Regions from separate parts of the Homo sapiens genome. Here region 1 is linked to region 2. The links come from fine-mapping of genetic effects on gene expression. Tissue or cell type: stomach. Region 2 holds a variant in brackets; the other region holds the start of a gene. All regions are shown on one strand. Distances are from middle to middle.

The links. PIP is the estimated chance that this variant, and not a neighbour inherited with it, causes the effect.
Region 1: LRCH1 starts here. The variant in region 2 is fine-mapped to the expression of LRCH1 in stomach (GTEx, PIP above 0.99).

What each region holds. Positions count from the first base shown.
Region 1 is chr13:46,549,603-46,557,708 of GRCh38, reverse strand. It overlaps LRCH1 (leucine rich repeats and calponin homology domain containing 1), which reads right to left and starts at 4,539. Exons shown (of 20, transcript NM_001164211.2): 1 at 4,006-4,539. The coding sequence starts at 4,312. RefSeq lists enhancers at 3,406-3,725, 3,382-4,082 and silencers at 4,286-4,345, 4,406-4,595.
Region 2 is chr13:46,014,853-46,022,958 of GRCh38, reverse strand. ZC3H13 (zinc finger CCCH-type containing 13) reads left to right here. Exons shown (of 19, transcript NM_001330564.2): 5 at 2,402-2,510. Among named protein-coding and RNA genes, the nearest start is that of ZC3H13, 34 kb to the left of the region's middle. The variant G/A (reference allele first, on the strand shown) is at 4,665.

The sequences.
Region 1 (8,106 bases), 530 kb before region 2:
ACCATGCCCGGCTAATGTTTGTATTTTCAGTAGAGATGAGGTTTTACCATGTTGGTCAGGCTGGTCTCAAACTCCTGACCTCAGGTGATCCACCCACCTTGGCCTCCCAAAGTGCAGGCGTTACAGGAGTGAGCTATCGTGCCTGGCCTAATATTTTATTTTTCGTAGAGATGGGGTCTCACTATATTGCCCAGACCGTTCTCAAACTCCTGGGGTCAAGTGGTCCTTCCACCTAGGCCTCCCAAAGTGCTGGGATTACAGGTGTGAGCCACAGTGCCTGGCCCATAGTCTTTCCTGCTTAGAGCCAACTCAAAAAGATAATTAGCAATGAAATATTCCCCACTTTCCTTAACAAGACTTTCAACAAGTGTCCTGCATGCCAAGTCTAAGGGCTTCTTTTTTATTTTCTAGAACCTCCTGCAATCAGCCACTTTCTTTTCTTACTCCTTTTCAATTCACTTTTAATTGTACAAAATACCCTTTTGAACTTCTTCATTCAAAACGACACTACTTAATAAATCAGCACCAAAAAAAAAAAAAATTTGCTTTACTCATATGCAAATTTGTGTACTTGTTTTTCTTTGGCCCAATTTTATGCTTCAGATTATATGTATTACTAGTCATCATTTATACTCTTGCTACAAGCCACCTGAAGTCAATACAAAGCAATCTGTGTATTTATAAAACAAAGATATTCCATCTATCCTGTAACTCATCCTATTTATCCTGCAAAATCAATTTATTCATGTATCTCTCTATTCTCCAACTAGAATGAACTCCACAAGAAGGGATACAGGGATTCTCTTTTGGTCACTGTTGTGTCCCCAGTGCCTAGATCAGTGGCCAGCACTCAGAGGGGCTCAGTACATTCTTGTGGAATCAATGCTGGTTGAATGAATTTCCAGGAAGCCTCCCAGATTCTATCTCTCAACCCCTTCCCTCTGCTTGATGAGAATATGGTCAAGAACATGAATTAACGTGAGGCTGCCAGGGTTCCAATCACCGGTTGACCATCTCAGTAGAGGTATAATCTTCAGCATATTATGTAACTTGTCTCTGTCTCAGTCTTCCCATGTATAAATGAGGGTATGACTGGGCTCCTAGTGGGGACTAAGATCATGCAGATAACGCATAGAGAGGCGCACCCAGTGCTGATAGTGGCTCTTCTGTTTTGTCCCTTTCCATCAGTGACACCTGTGTCACTCACTGCACCTGCGTGGATCAGTCTTTCTTTCCCCGTTTCACCTATTAAAAGACTAGACTCTGACAACAAAACTTATTTTGATTCAAATAGAAGTAAATTAATAGGCTCAAAATGAGAGCTTGAATTTTTTCCTATCAATAAAGTATATGCACTTGAGTGACAGCTTAGACATCTATTCTATGTTTCTTTGTTTACATCTTGGTTTTCCACTCTGTTCAGATGGGCTATATTGCCCAGGTGCAGTTCTGCACAGGTGGCTGCCAGAAGCCTGACTTTTTACAAGGCGTAAACCAAATGGCCTGTAATATACAACAAAACTGTGAGAAAAAGCTTGCTCTACCACTCCCTGTCTTAGAAAATATATGGAAAAAAAAATCCACTTTGCCTCTTAGGCCTTTAAGGATCTTCATATGCCATTCTAATTTTAAGAGACATTCTTAAAGTAAATATGAGTCAAGGAGAAACCACTATCTTTATTATAAATGTTACTACTCAAACTTTCAACTGTACTAGAACTCTTACATGTACGCTGTGTCAACACTGTGTACACCGGAGGTAACTTTAACTCTTTATTTTGCTTTCTGGTCTCTCAAATAAGAAACTGTGCTCAATTAAATTTATCTTTAGAACAAAGAGTACATGTGGTTTACACCTAGCTTTTGACCTGAGGCAAAGACGTTTTGCAGAAGCAAATATTTAATACATTTGGGTATTCTAATTTCATGTAAAATAACTAGCTGCAATGAATACTTTTCTGATGGGGTTGACTTAAGTTTCTACAAACATGAATATCCCTCCACTCCTCTTCCCCCAAATAATACTGTATTTTTGGATGAGGAATTAACATAAAGCCTCTGAATTTTAACCAGTTAGATTTTCCTGAGCATAAAACATGTGCAAGTGAGCTCATAAATAAAAACCTGCAAAACTCACAACTTAAGCTTGCCATAAACAAGCCAACAAGAACACTTTCAGCATCCACTTCACATGGCGAGGTCTTAGCTAAAAGATGTGATCCCTAAAAGCACTGGTCTTCTCAAAGAAATGCCAACACAGCAGACACATCAAGTTCACCTAACTTTGTAAATAATCCTTAGCATAACTGAAGTAGAACAACTATGAAGCCCCCTTACTGAACTACACAAACCTATTATTATTAGTCATGCCAGCTCTATTTTCTGCAGATATAGCCAACCATAGCATAGCTAGCTCACGGTACACTCTATAGCAGAAGGGAAGTAAAATTTAATGTAGTTTTTTAAGTCAGTGATTCAGGCAATTCTTGGAATAAGTTCCACTTGAGAAGATGTAACTAAGAGGTCTTATTGAAAGACACTCCCCAGCTGTTGACAGCTCAACTTTGGAAATTCCCTCTTTTTTGCCGATTCCTGACTATCCCTAAATCCAAATTACAAAGTTTAATGACCCTGGAGAGCCATCTTTGCCTCCAGTGAACTCAGAACTGTATCTAAATATTCATTAAGGCTCTAGATAAATGTTTATTGAATTAAAAGGGGGAAAAGACACTGGAAACCTAGCCTCCAAAAACCCACTGCCTGCTCCCTTGCCCACTACAAGATTAAACTGGGTGCTCCTGTGATGAGAGTCAACCCATCCAAGACCCAGGGGGTCTGACCCTGGGCCATGAGGCGATGACAGCCAAGAGGTCTGGGCAGCGGCTCCAAAACGGAGCACCCACTGCCCTGGGAAATGTTGGGCGCTTGCTATGACACAAACCCTCCCCCAGGGAGCGGAACCGGATGGCCGGAAACCAAGTCAGTTCTGTATAGACCCTAAGGCCCCAATCCTATTCCACCACCCTCCTTCCTGTTTATAGATCCCGCTCCTGGAACTCCAACTACCAAAGAGAAAGCAGACGTTTTAGAAGTATGTAACACATGACGTAACTTGAAAAAGTTATGCTGCTTATTGGCGCGAGTTACAACTTGCCGGGCTCACACAGGAAAACAGGCTCACGTTAATTACTTTGCCTTTAATATGCCACGCCGTCCTTTCCTGGGGCCCCCGCAACGGTTGGGTAACTGAGAACCAGGTAGCCTCGGTGGTAGGACCCAAACTGTGTGGGCGGTGAGCAAAAGGCACGGAAGGAAGAGGGCCGATCGCTTCCGAAGCGGCAGCCGACTGGGATTCACTACAAGCCCGGCGGCTCTTTTCCCGCACAAGCGCAGGGAGAGGAAACTTGGGCACCTCACAGGCGGCACCGAGTTGCCCGATCGCTCGGCGATGTCGCCGAGGGGGCTCGCGGCACTGCGCCGATGCCCCTGGCTCGGCCGAGGGCGTGCCACCTTTGTCTGGGTTTCCCCACCAGGATGGGCTACGCCTCGATGCAAAGACGGCTTGAACTGGTTGGAGGCGCCGACGCCGCTGTCCGCGCTGGAGTTCCCAGCCCTGCGCGGGGCCCAGGAAGCCGACACAGCCGCCTGAAACCTCCCACTTACACTGCGCGCACGCGGCGCGCCTGCAAGTCCCAGCCCCGCGGTTACTTCCCTGGCGCGGCAGCCACAGGGTGGAGAGCCGGAGACCCCTCGCTCTCAGGCGCAGAGGCCCGGCGCACCCCTGCCCTCCTGGCACTGCATCGCCGGACCAGGCAGGGCCCCCGTGCCCTCTCCAGGGCCCGCTTCTTCCGCGCCCACGCGAGTCCCTTCTTCGGGAGACAACGGGCCGATGGACCCTCCCTCCCCCAGCAAGACAAGATCTCCGACTGTCCACCGCGTTAGGGAACGCACGACAGACACCCAGACAGCACCCACACCCCTGCCCGCCCCTCGGCCCTCACTCACCTGCCTGCACCGTGTCCGAGAGGTCGTGCCCGGGGGCTGCGGTACGGGGAAATTCCTTCAATTTCCTGGCGCTCAGGTTCAGCCCCCCGGAGTTGGCCGCCTCCTCAAGCGCGCGCTCCAGACCCCGGTTCAAGGGCAGGTTGAAGCCCCCGCTGCCACCGCCGCCACCACCCGCCCCGCCGGGGGCGCCGGTTCCTCCGTGGTGCTGATGGTGGTGGTGGTGGTGGTGGGGATGATGAAGTGGGTGCAGAGTAGCTACCGAAAGGGCCGGGACGAAAGGTTGGGGTTCGCTTCCCGGCGTCGCCATCTTCTCCCGGGCCCCCCCACCCCGCCCCGCCGCTCCTGCGGGGGGGTCACAGCGTTCCCCGCGAGGGGAAAACGGCAGCTCGGGCTGAGTGCCGCAGTGCTCCACCGAAAGGCGCTGGAAGGAGGGGAGGAGGGTGTGGGCAGGCGCGTAGAATGGGGGGCGGGCGGGGAGGCGGCCGTGGCAGCTCGGTCTTGAAGGTTTCCTGTCCCCGGGAAGCTAAGGACTGCGGCGGCGGCGGCGGCGGCGGCAGCGCGCATGTGTCTCCTCCCGCCCCTGCGCCCTCCCCCCGGCTGCTCTGCCCTCCTCCGCCGTCTGCTCTCTCCTCCTCCTTCCCCCACGCAGTCTGCCCCGCCTGAGCCTTCCTCCGCGCCTATTCTGCCGGCCGCCGCCGCCTTGCCGCGATCCGCCCCGCAATCGGGTACACGGCGGGGCTGGACGTCTGCTCCGGGGCAACTGAGGCGCCGAACCTCTCTCTGGGCGTCCTTTTGCCGCCCAGGAGGCTTTAGGGGACTGGAGGTTGCGGGGATAGGGGGGTGGTCTGAGAACACGGATAAAACGGCGGGAGGCAATGAATGGGATTTACAGTACAGTGAGGTTTGGGGCAGGAGAGGGTTCTCTCAATTCTGCGATTTATTCTGGCCGTTTAACCCAGAGATCCCCAAGAGGCAGTTTTCATTCACTATGGGGTCATCCCTGCAGATGCCCCCTGGCATTTGGGCGCTTACAATGAACCAGACGCTTGTTTAGGGAGTCTACGTAAGTTACCTCATTAATCCAGGGACCCCAGGAGTGCCAAAGTTGTTCCCCTGAGTCTACAGAGGAAGTTAATAAATGTATCTAAGGTCACCCCTGCAGTTAGAGGGGCGCTAGATTCGAGCTAGGGCCCTCAGAATCTAGGGTTGCCCTCCTTCACAGTGTACCCCTGGGCCAGACGCCAGCGCCAAGGGACGAATACGAGTGGGACAGAGTGTTTGCTGAGCGGCAGAAGAAAGCTACAGACATAGGAAAGAAAAACTCAAAATGAGGGCAGTGTTTATGGGGGACAGAAGACATTGTCGTAGGAGAAAGATGAGCTGGCTGCTCCCCGAAATTGGGTGGTGCCAGGAGAGGCTAGAAAGCCAGTGACCCCAAACAGCAAATCAGTCACAGCTCGAGTCTGAGCTGAAAGAACCATCGAAGTCTCCTTGTGCCCTTCTTCTTCCCGCTTTGGGGCATGGAAACGAACATGTCCGCTTGCAAGTGAATTCACATTCTGCCATCAGCCACCCAGTGGCACCCAGGCCAATGCTGGCACACCAGGGGCGACAGAGAACATCTGACACCCTAAGGGCAGACCAGCTGGACGATTAATAGAATACCATTCCTTTCCTGAAGTTAAAGCTTCATGTCCAACTTTCCAGGGCCTTTATTTTTGCTCTATTCTTAAGGCTTGATTGTCCCCTATGAGCGACTTGGCTTGGGGAAAATGAGTCGGGGGGTGGGTGCGGGGTTGTCGGGGTGTCAAGCACGAAAGTAATGCAACCCTTGGAGTAGGGGAGCTGGTTTTTTAAGTGGTAATACATAAGTTTGATGGCCTAGACAACAGGCTGGAACTGGTGACTTCATGGACTCGGCACTTAAGTATGGCATGATCTGTGTCACTTGAATTGACTGCACAGATAGTTGCCCTTAATTCCTGCGGGATTCTTGGCCCTGAGCAAAGCATTCTAATCTGCCCGGAGGAGACACGCGCCACCTGCTGGTATCCTCCCGCAAACCTCCCCTCTCACATGCCATTCGCCGCAGCCTTCCAGGCTTTTAAAAGTCCGGCTTCAAAATTCATAATAATAACGACAATAATAATAAATGAAAGTATACTTCCATCACAAAAAAGTAACCAAATTTCCACTTTCCTCCAGGGAGAGGAACAGAGAAAAACAAAATCCAGTGAAAAACAGAAACACAGAAAAAAATCCAATTAAAAGAATCTTCAGCTGAAACCAGGTGGTAGTCTGTGTGATCAGCAGTCAGGACATGATTTGGGACATCTTCTGGCTGACTGCAAATTTAGTTCAGACTAAGAGTCGTTGTGATGCATCATAGGAAGCATACATATTTTTTTAAAAGACCACTAATTCTTCTTTAAAGAAAATAATGGATTGCATATGAGCCCACGATTTGCTTTTTAACAAATGATCAGTCCCTCTGTTAGATTGACCTACTCATTGTGGTTTGTTTACCCATCTACAGATTACTAAACTGTAAATTCCATGAAATAGGGACCTATTCATCTTTGCAACTCTCTCCCCATGCCTCAGAATCGAGGGGAGTACTTTGTATATAATGAGTGCACAATTAATATTAGTAATCAATTAAGTATTGCATAATAGACCATGTGTTTAACAGGTTTGCCACCTGTTGATATGTCCTTTTTTATTTGTATAAATTTATGGGGTACTTGTTGATACATCTTTAAAGTTTCAAATGATTTCCCTGAATGAAGGAGTTTTTCTTAAAATGGGAGAGAGTACTTGACCCTTGAAAATGATCTTGATTATTTCTAAATATTAAAGAAACTCGACAAGCCATTTCCCCTTGCTGTCTTGCTTCTTCACTATTTCTTCAAGAAGATGGACATCTCTCTTTTGTTTAATACCCTGTTTACTTATTCTGAAAACAGCACCCTTTTGCTATTAAGGGCAGGAATCAGGCCCTTTTAAAAAAATCCGCTGCCTGGAAGATTCAACAAATAATGTTGTCTGGCTGAGATATTTGATGCAACTAGTAACATCAACATGAATTTCTCTGAAGATAAATAATATGTGTTTCAGGATTTTTCTATGTGAATCAGCTAGTTGATGAAAAAATGACCCTGATAAAATGAGGAAAAAAAAATAGGACAATGTCCTGAGTTTTTCATGAACCTGAATGTATTTAATTTCAAAAATTATATATAATTGTGAGGCTGTGCCTTCACTATTTTTTTTTCTGATGAAAAAAAAAAACCAAAACAATGGTAACAATAAATTGTAGTGTTTTTTAAGTATCCTTTTTCAAAAAATAACAAAAGGAGGTTACTAAAGTCAGTTACCAATTATTTTGATGTTGTTTATCTCTGAAATCAAAAACTCTGGGAACTACTGTACTTGCTGAGACCCTTGGTTTTCTTAAAAGGAAGTTAGTCATACATAAGTCTAGTCACCTGCTTTCAAGCATTTTCTTAAGCTGTGCTCACATCAACTAATCTTCTTTTCTTTTTTTTTTTTTTTTTTTTTTTTGAGATGGAGTCTCACTGTAACCTCCACCTCCCATGTTCAAGGGATTCTCCTGCCTCAGCCTCCCGAGTAGTTAGGACTACAGGCACCTGCCACCATGCCTGGCTAATTTTTTTTTTTTTTTTTTTTTTTTGGTATTTTTAGTAGAGATGCAGGTTCAACACATTAGCCAGGCTGGTTTCAAACTCCTGACCTCAGGTGATCCACTCACCTTGGCCTCCCCAAAGTGCTGGGATTACAGGTATGAGCCACTGTGCCTGGCCCCTTTATTTATTTATTTATTTATGGGACAGTGTCTCGCTCTGTCGCCCTGGCTGGAGTGCAGTGGTTCAATCCCGGCTCACTGCAACCTCCGCCTCCCAGGTTCAAGCAATTCTCCTGTCTCAGCCTCCCAATTAGCTGGGACTACAGTTGCACACCACCATGCTGGGCTAAATTTTGTATTTTAGTAGAGACGGGGTTTCACCATATTGATCAGGCTGGTCTTAAACTCCTGACCTCAGGTAATCCACCAGCCTCGGCCTCCCAAAGTGCTGGGAT
Region 2 (8,106 bases):
AAAATCATGTATTACATTTCTGAAATTCAAAAAACTTCAAACATTTTTCCTAAGACACAGACATTTGGGAGCAAAACCTGGTCTTAATTGAAATAAATTTAATTACAGTTTTTATACAAGTGGTGAATTTCTGTGTTTTGCTGCAAAAATGTTAGTATGTTTGGTCACAGGCTACTGTTCCAGACTCCACTGGAACAGTAGTACTACTTAATATGCTTTGAAATGCAAAAAAAAAAAAAAATTCTGAACTCTTAAAATATCTGATCCCAAGGGTTTTGGCTAAAATACTGTGGTTCTTCAAGTATTTCAAGACTTAGATGTTCCAGGATGACTAATTTACAACACATAGTAATCAGTAGGTTATACTTTTAATTAATATGTTTGGATTTAAGAGAAGATGAGAAGCCATTCTGTTCAAGAAATACAGCAAGGTGGAATAGTAGACCGTGCTACACTACATTGGACGAGTAATACCATACCCTATTTATTTGAGTATAAGAGAAAAGGGGGAATAACTTTGTTTGATAAAAGGCATAACATACCTAAACAAGTTACACATTGTTGAAGTGGGGGAAATTAGGAAATAAGGTATTTTTTAAATTAGCTAGACCTTCTTAATAAATGTTACCAAAATAATTTCCTATATTATGATTTGAGGTAAGAACTTGAAATTCCATCACCTATTTAAGCCTGCATTCAGTCTCTAGTACCTAATAATAGAAGTTATATATGATCTCTGGGAGTAGCATCAGAGTCATATTGGAAAACATGGACAATTCAAAAATTATAATTTTAATATTTAGGGTAAATATGAAATATTTACAGACATCATTATTAATGACATTTATTGATACAACATTTCTGGCTCTAAATCTGATAAAAAATGTTACAAATTTATAGATTGATTTTGCAGCACCAGCACTACTGCTCTGACACCCTTTTTAACTAGACTTGCAATTGGATTTTACATACTTTTAAGTGGACAGAAAGCACAGAATATGTTATTTAATAATTTGGAGATAACCTCCTATTAAATATTTTTGGTATAGTTATTCAGTAATGTATATTTACAGTGGGTTTAATCCACAGAACATTCAAAAATTGTTTGGGATGTAGGATAGTTCTTCATTGATGTTCCACATAATATGTTTTAAGAGTAAAAGTAAATTATATTTCTTCCTTTTGTCTTCTGTTCAAGTAGAGGCCCATTTCTGTTTTCTTGACTCTTCACCATTTTTTTCATGGCAGGTTTTATTCTCATATAACTTACAAATTATTTTCGTCAGCCTCTGTTGTCTTACCAGCAATCAAATCCAAATTTTGTCAGTAATATTTACAGTATGACTTCATGCCTAAATATGTAGAATTTAGGGGCAGTTATATATACTAGAGTTCTTTAAGAAGAAAACTACAAAGAGAAATTAATTTGTGTTTTAAGCAGCCAAATTTTATGATTAGTAATGCTCAGAAAGAAATTTGAGCACTTAATATCCTTGTGTGTAAGTGTCTTTCATAGTATTTACAATGTTAGTAAAAGTAAGACTTCTGCTGTGGTGGAAGATAACAATTATATAACACTGGTTACTTTTATTTTCTTACCACCTAGTAAAATATGATTTGGAGTTCTTATGTAATAGGACATTTAATTGACTTTTATAATCTGAATTAATTTTGTCCTTTTTTGTGTGTAAGCTGCTTTTATACCTGGAATAAAATGTAAAACCTGTTTTTTAGCAGCAGTAGTGAGGACTAATTTACTATTTTAGGTACCATTTGGTTTCATCAAAATGGGTAAAATATATTTTTGTAAACCTTTATAATACTATTAAATGAGTTTGGATTTATCCTTGGGTGTCTAGGAAAATGACAATTACTTGAATATATGACAAGTCCTAGATCAGTTATTTTTAGAAGTCTGTGGTGAATGGTTTAGCCCTTTTTTGACATTTTAAAATATAATCACTTACAAATCCTTCCATTGTATTTTATTCATTTTAAACTGTCTTTTCCCCAGTGGTTTTCACGTGGAAACTTACTGTGTAGCTGAATGTCACAAGTTTGTTAAAGTATTAGATTTGCATTGTATATTTTTACATCTTAGCTACTCTTTAATATTTAAAGTTTTTGTTCTTTAGTAAAATAGATGTAGTATAGTCTACATCTCTTTTAGTTTTTGTTGTTTAGTAGTTTTTGTTCTTTAGTAAAATGGAGTATAGTCTTTTCATTGTGGTGCTAAACTAGAATTTGTCACTTTCTCTACTTAGTGGATAAGTGACTATTTACAAAACTGATTCTTTGATGAAACAGAGATGAATGAAATTAAAATGTTCTCTTATTACAATAAACTACCTCATAATTTTTAAAAATATAGTAATCTGAATGTATGTATGTACTTTTTTAGAAAGAATCTTCAAGAGGGAGACATAGGGAAAAGGAAGACATAAAAATCACTAAGGAAAGAACTCCAGAAAGTGAAGAAGAAAATGTAGAATGGGAAACTAATAGAGATGGTGAGTTTCAGAATCTTGGTTTAAATGGCGAATTCTTGATTATTTACTTTCTAGAGTTTTCGTGGGCTTCAGAACACCTTTCGACTGTGATCCCTCTCGTTTCAGAATCATTTTATTGACATATTTCTATCTTACTGAATTATAAGGCAAAAACTGGCATATAGTAGCTGTACAAAGGCAGAGAAAGTGGTTTGCATTGCATATTTTTATTTTCCCTTCCTAGTTTTCCCTCTAGAACTTTATTGTGCAGCATTACAGCCCTTCAGGATTGTATTGCATATGTAAATTTAAAAATTCCTAACGCTAAGCTTAAAATGAAATCTATATTTGTTTTACATAAAATATTATAAATGAGATTTTTAAATCTTAAGGACTTGGGAAAGTTATTTCCAAGAAATGTTTGACTTTTATCTTTCAGAAGAAATCAAAATCAGATTAAGATAGAGACCTGGATTTATTAATAAAAAATTAGCAAAAAAATTTTTTTTCTTGAGACATGCTCTCACTGTGTCACCCAGGCTGGAGGACAGTGGTACAATCATGGCTCACTGCAGCTTAGCCTCTTGAAGTCAAGCAGTCCTCCTGCCTGTTATCTCAGCACTTTGGGAGGCTAAGGCTGGAGTACCACTTTAGCCCAGGAGTTTGAGACCAGTGTGGGCAACAAAGTAAGACCCCATCTCTACAAAAAAACAAAGAAATTAGCCTGACATGGTGGTGCATGCCTGTGATCCCAGCTACTTGGGAAGCTGAGGTGGGAGCAAAATCATTTTTGAGTCATCAATAAGCATTTATTTTCCACCCCTTGAATGTTTTCTCCACCTCTTTGATGTTCTGAAAGATGGGCACTGTAATGTCATATTACCAAACACAGAGAAAGAGAACTTGTATTTGTTAAATGCATTGAGTGGGGGTGGACAATTTAATGTAATTTATATAATTGTCTTATTATTTCAATAGCTTTGTTACTCTACTTACAGATGACAAAACTAAAGATCTTAAAAATTTAAGCAACTTTTTCAGTGAGAAGCTGAAAACTTAGACCAGGGATTAGAAAACTAGAGTGTGTGGGCCAGTCACTGGTTTTTGCAAAAAAAGTTTTATTGGAACACAGCCATGTCCATCCATTTGGTTACATATTGTCTGTGGCTGCTTTTGAGCTACAGTGGCCAAGTCGAGTCTTTATGACAGAGAACTGAGAAGCTACAAGACTACAATATTAACTACTATATTTCAGAATTATCTCTGAAGACTTAATAGACTAACAGTTGTAAAGTATTGTAAATACATCTTTCCAGTAATTGTTACATCAGTACTTAAAGGAAACCTGTTCCATCTTTGGACAGTGCTGTTAAAAAATTGCTTCTAAGAACAAATAGGAAACTTGTTTATGGTTACTCAGGATTTCATAATCCAACCTAATACCGCTTCTACAAAATAGCAATAAAGGCAGCTATACTCTCCCATTTTAGTTGACTAGTATATTTAAATAAAATATTATAAACCATAACTGTTCAAGTTTGGAGAGCTAACTTTTCCTAAATACTAAGGGGTTACCTTTTAACACACCCAAGCATCCTTTCTTTTCATTTTAATTTTTTTGCATAAAAAACATTTTAAAATGTATTTGATACTTCTTATCTTTAAAATATTTTCAGTTGTCATTACAATAATTAGTAGTTGTTGAAAATATAAAAGGTTCAGAAAAGCCCAAGTCTGTTCTTTTTCTTCCTGGTAGGTATGTCAAACCTTCTCCATAAATCTATGCTTTCATTTCTCTTTTTTGCTATCTACTAAGCAGAGACAATGGAAATCTTTAGGAATTCCCTCAACTTCCTCCTACCACACCTTCAAACTAAGTTTTTATTTGTGCCTAAACTTTTTTACTTCCCTCTTATTCTGTGTAAGAGGCCTCCTTCCTGCTGTATAAGGTTGATGAATAATTCCCTTGTATTGTAGATCTGATTTCCTCCTGCCTCAGCAATCTTGTTCATTTGTGATACACTCTCTTCTATATCTTTAACATCCATTTTCTCTCCTCCCTATTTTACTGTTAGTCACTATCCTGCTTATCCCCACTTAACAACTAAATTCTTAAAACAGTTCTGTGCCTTACTGTTTCTACTTGATACTGTTTCACCTGATACTTATTATTCA[G/A]TCTTCTGACCCAACTCTCCACTAAAACTGCTTTTCAAAGTCACTAATGACCTCCTCATTGCAGAATAAATGGAGATGTACTTGTTACTATCCTAAATGGCCGTCTGCAGCATTTGACACATCAAGAGCTCCTGTTTTCTTGAAAAAGACTCTTCTTTTGGCTTCTATTTATCACTCTTCAGTTTTGTATCTTCCTGTTCAAGCCCTTCAGTCTTACACGGAGGCTCCTTGTATTCTGTGTGCCCCTTAAATGTTGATTCCCAAGGATTTGCACTTAACTATATTCTTTTAAAAAATCTAAAGTGATTTTATTTCAAGAGCCTTTTATATAGGAAATTCTTTTAAAAGGTGAGTGTAAATGTCTTTAATAAGAATTTCTTATGCTTTTCCTTGATTGAAACGCACAGTTTTTGACCATTGTGTATCTCTGTGATTTGAAAGTATCTGTTGAGGGAATATTGAAGCATTGAGTTAAGTGCCCCACTCCCTGGATAGTGAGACTAAACTGGTTTCATAGACTTACCTTCTGCATTGTTATTCTATCTGGAATAACAATTTTAGCTGGATTCAGAAAAAATTGGTATATTTATAAACTTTCTGGTTTTTAGGCCACTTTTATATGCTTTTTCAGAACCCCCAAATAACTTTTATCCTTGTGTATTTTATGTTTCCATAACTGCCATATTATGAACCTGAGAAAATTTTTTAATATTTATGTATTCATTCATTTAACAATGACATATAAAAATCCATTATATGCTTTTATGAAAAATAACTATTTTGCAAAGCAAAAAATAATAATTGTGAGGAGGTGGCAGTGTTTTGCATCATTTTGCAAATTGTTTTAATATCTGGCTTAATAGTTGATAGGTAGATTTTCTTACCTGCTTCTACATTCCACCTGTTAACCACATCACATATTCTGGGAAACTCCACTATCTACTCATGGGAGAATGAGTACACCAGGCAAACAATGTAGTGTTATAGAAATAGTCTGATTTTGTAGAACTCCTGAAATTGTCTCAGGGACCTCCTAGGTATCCTCAGACCACTCTCTGAGAATCACTTGTCTGTAAGAACAGCTTTTAAAACTTGGTTGTTTTCCTGTTACCTAGCCATCTTCTTTTCTCACTTTCAATTTTTCCTTCTAGATGAAATCATGCACCCAGTGCTTCATTAACGTCGTACGTGTAGTGACTCCAAAATCTGGAGCTCTCAATTTAGCATTGACCAACTGGGCATCTCCATCTGAGTTATGTATCTTAAGGGCATCACTTTTCCTACCAGATACCAACAGTCCTGAGAGTCATCACTGACACTTCTTTCCCTCCACCCAGGCATTACCAGATAGATATTTTTATGTACCCAATACCATTGAAAACCATCTGTTTCTCTTGATATACTACTAATATTCTAGTTCTTAAGGTATTTATTTATTGCCTATAAATAGATTTTACCAAAATAACCTCCTAATCCCATCCCTTGCTTATAGTCTTGTCTCCTAATTAATCCCCCACTTTAAAGCAAGAATAATCTTTCTTACAAAGTTTTTCTACTGAAGTATACTATACGTTCAGAGGAATGCACAATACATGTGTCCAACCCATTGGATGTTCACAGACTGAACACATTTGTAAAACCACTCAAATCAGTAAGTAGGAAATTACTAGTTTCCCATAGTCCCCTTGTGTTTTCTTCTAGTCACTCCTCCCTACCCTCACCCCTCAAAGGTAACTACTGTCCTGATTTCTAGCACCATTGATTAGTTTTGTGTGTTTGAGCTCCATATAAATGGAATTGACAGCATGTACTCTTTTTGTGCCTAGCTTCTTTTGTTAACAGTATTATCTGAGATTGTACTTTATTTCACATATCATTCATTAATTGTTATTGCATCATTCTTATTGCTATATAGTGTTTTATTGTATGAATATGCCATAATTTAGTCTACTGTTGATGAACATTCAAGTAATTCCCAGTTTGGTGCTATTATGCATAATAAGGTGCTATTACTATTCTTAAACATATTTTTTGGTAAACATGTACAGACACATATCAATTTCTCTTGAGTTTATGGTTCGAAGTGGAATTGCTGGGCTGTGGAGTGTGAATGTGTTCCTCTTTAGTAGATAATTTCAGATCAAAAATGGTTGTTCCAGTTAACCATACGGTGTTTTTGCCTTTTTCATCATAGCTGTTCTAAAATTTTGTAGTAGTATCTTACTGTGGTTTTAGTTTGCATTCTCCTAATGAAGTTGAAAACTTTTTCACATGTTCACTGACCATTGTACACCCTATTTTGTGAAGTGTCTGTTCCAAATGTCTGCCGTTCTGCTATTGTGTTACCTGTTTTTTTTTTCTTGTTAATTAGAGGAATTCTTTATGTTTTCTGGATATGAGATTTTTATCAGATATATAAATATATTGTTAGTGTTTTCTCCCACTCTATGAGTTGCAGAACAGTCTTTTAAAAGAATAAATTGAATGTTCATTTTATTTTCCTGTTTCAAATTCCCTAATTTCCCATTGCCTTCAGGAGCAAGTACAAATTCTAACTACGCCTATAAAACTTTTGATTATCTGGTTACTCTTTGTATTTCCAGGCCCCACTCCGAAGTCTGTGGTTTTTATTTGGTTCCTTAAACTTCTTGTATTTGTTCATCATGTGTTCTTAAGGACCAATGAAGTAACATAAAAAGTAAAAGTATCATTGCAGTAGAATGTGTGAAAATATTTTGGTAATCTTGGAGGTTAGTACATCCTCCTTAAATAGGGCATAAAACCCAGAAGCCACAAACATTTGATTACATAAAACTAGGAGTTTCTGTGTAACTAAATGCAGAAGTTAAAAACAGATGAAATGGTAAAAGAAAATACTTGACATGTGTAACGTGTAAGCATTAGTAAAGATACTATATAGACATATAATGAGTTTCTACAAATACATAAGAAAAAGACGGCCTAGTTAAAAAATGAGTAAAAATATATATGTATCAGATAGGTAACTCACAGGAGAAATAGAACTGGCCAATAAATGCTCAATCTTACTGCAGGGAAATACTGATGAAAATAAAGAGATATGATTACTCACCCATTCGTTTGGCAGAAATGAAGAACATTAATGTTTTCAAGTGGGGGTTTACATTGGTAAAGGAGTTTTGGAGTACAGTTTGGTGTTATTAGAAATAGAAATTATACTTATTTTCAGTCTAGCAATGTAGTCTGAGAAATAATGTCATAGAAAAATACTTGCACTTGAACCAAAGTATATATCAAAATGTTCATATAAGTCTTGTTTTTAACAGCAAAATACTGGAAACAGTTCATCTGTCTTTAAGAAGGAAACTCTTTTAAGTAAGCTACGATAAAGTATGATCATATTAATGAAATGCTTTGCAGACGTTAAAATGAAGATAGTTGAACTCTATGACTTGGAAAGATC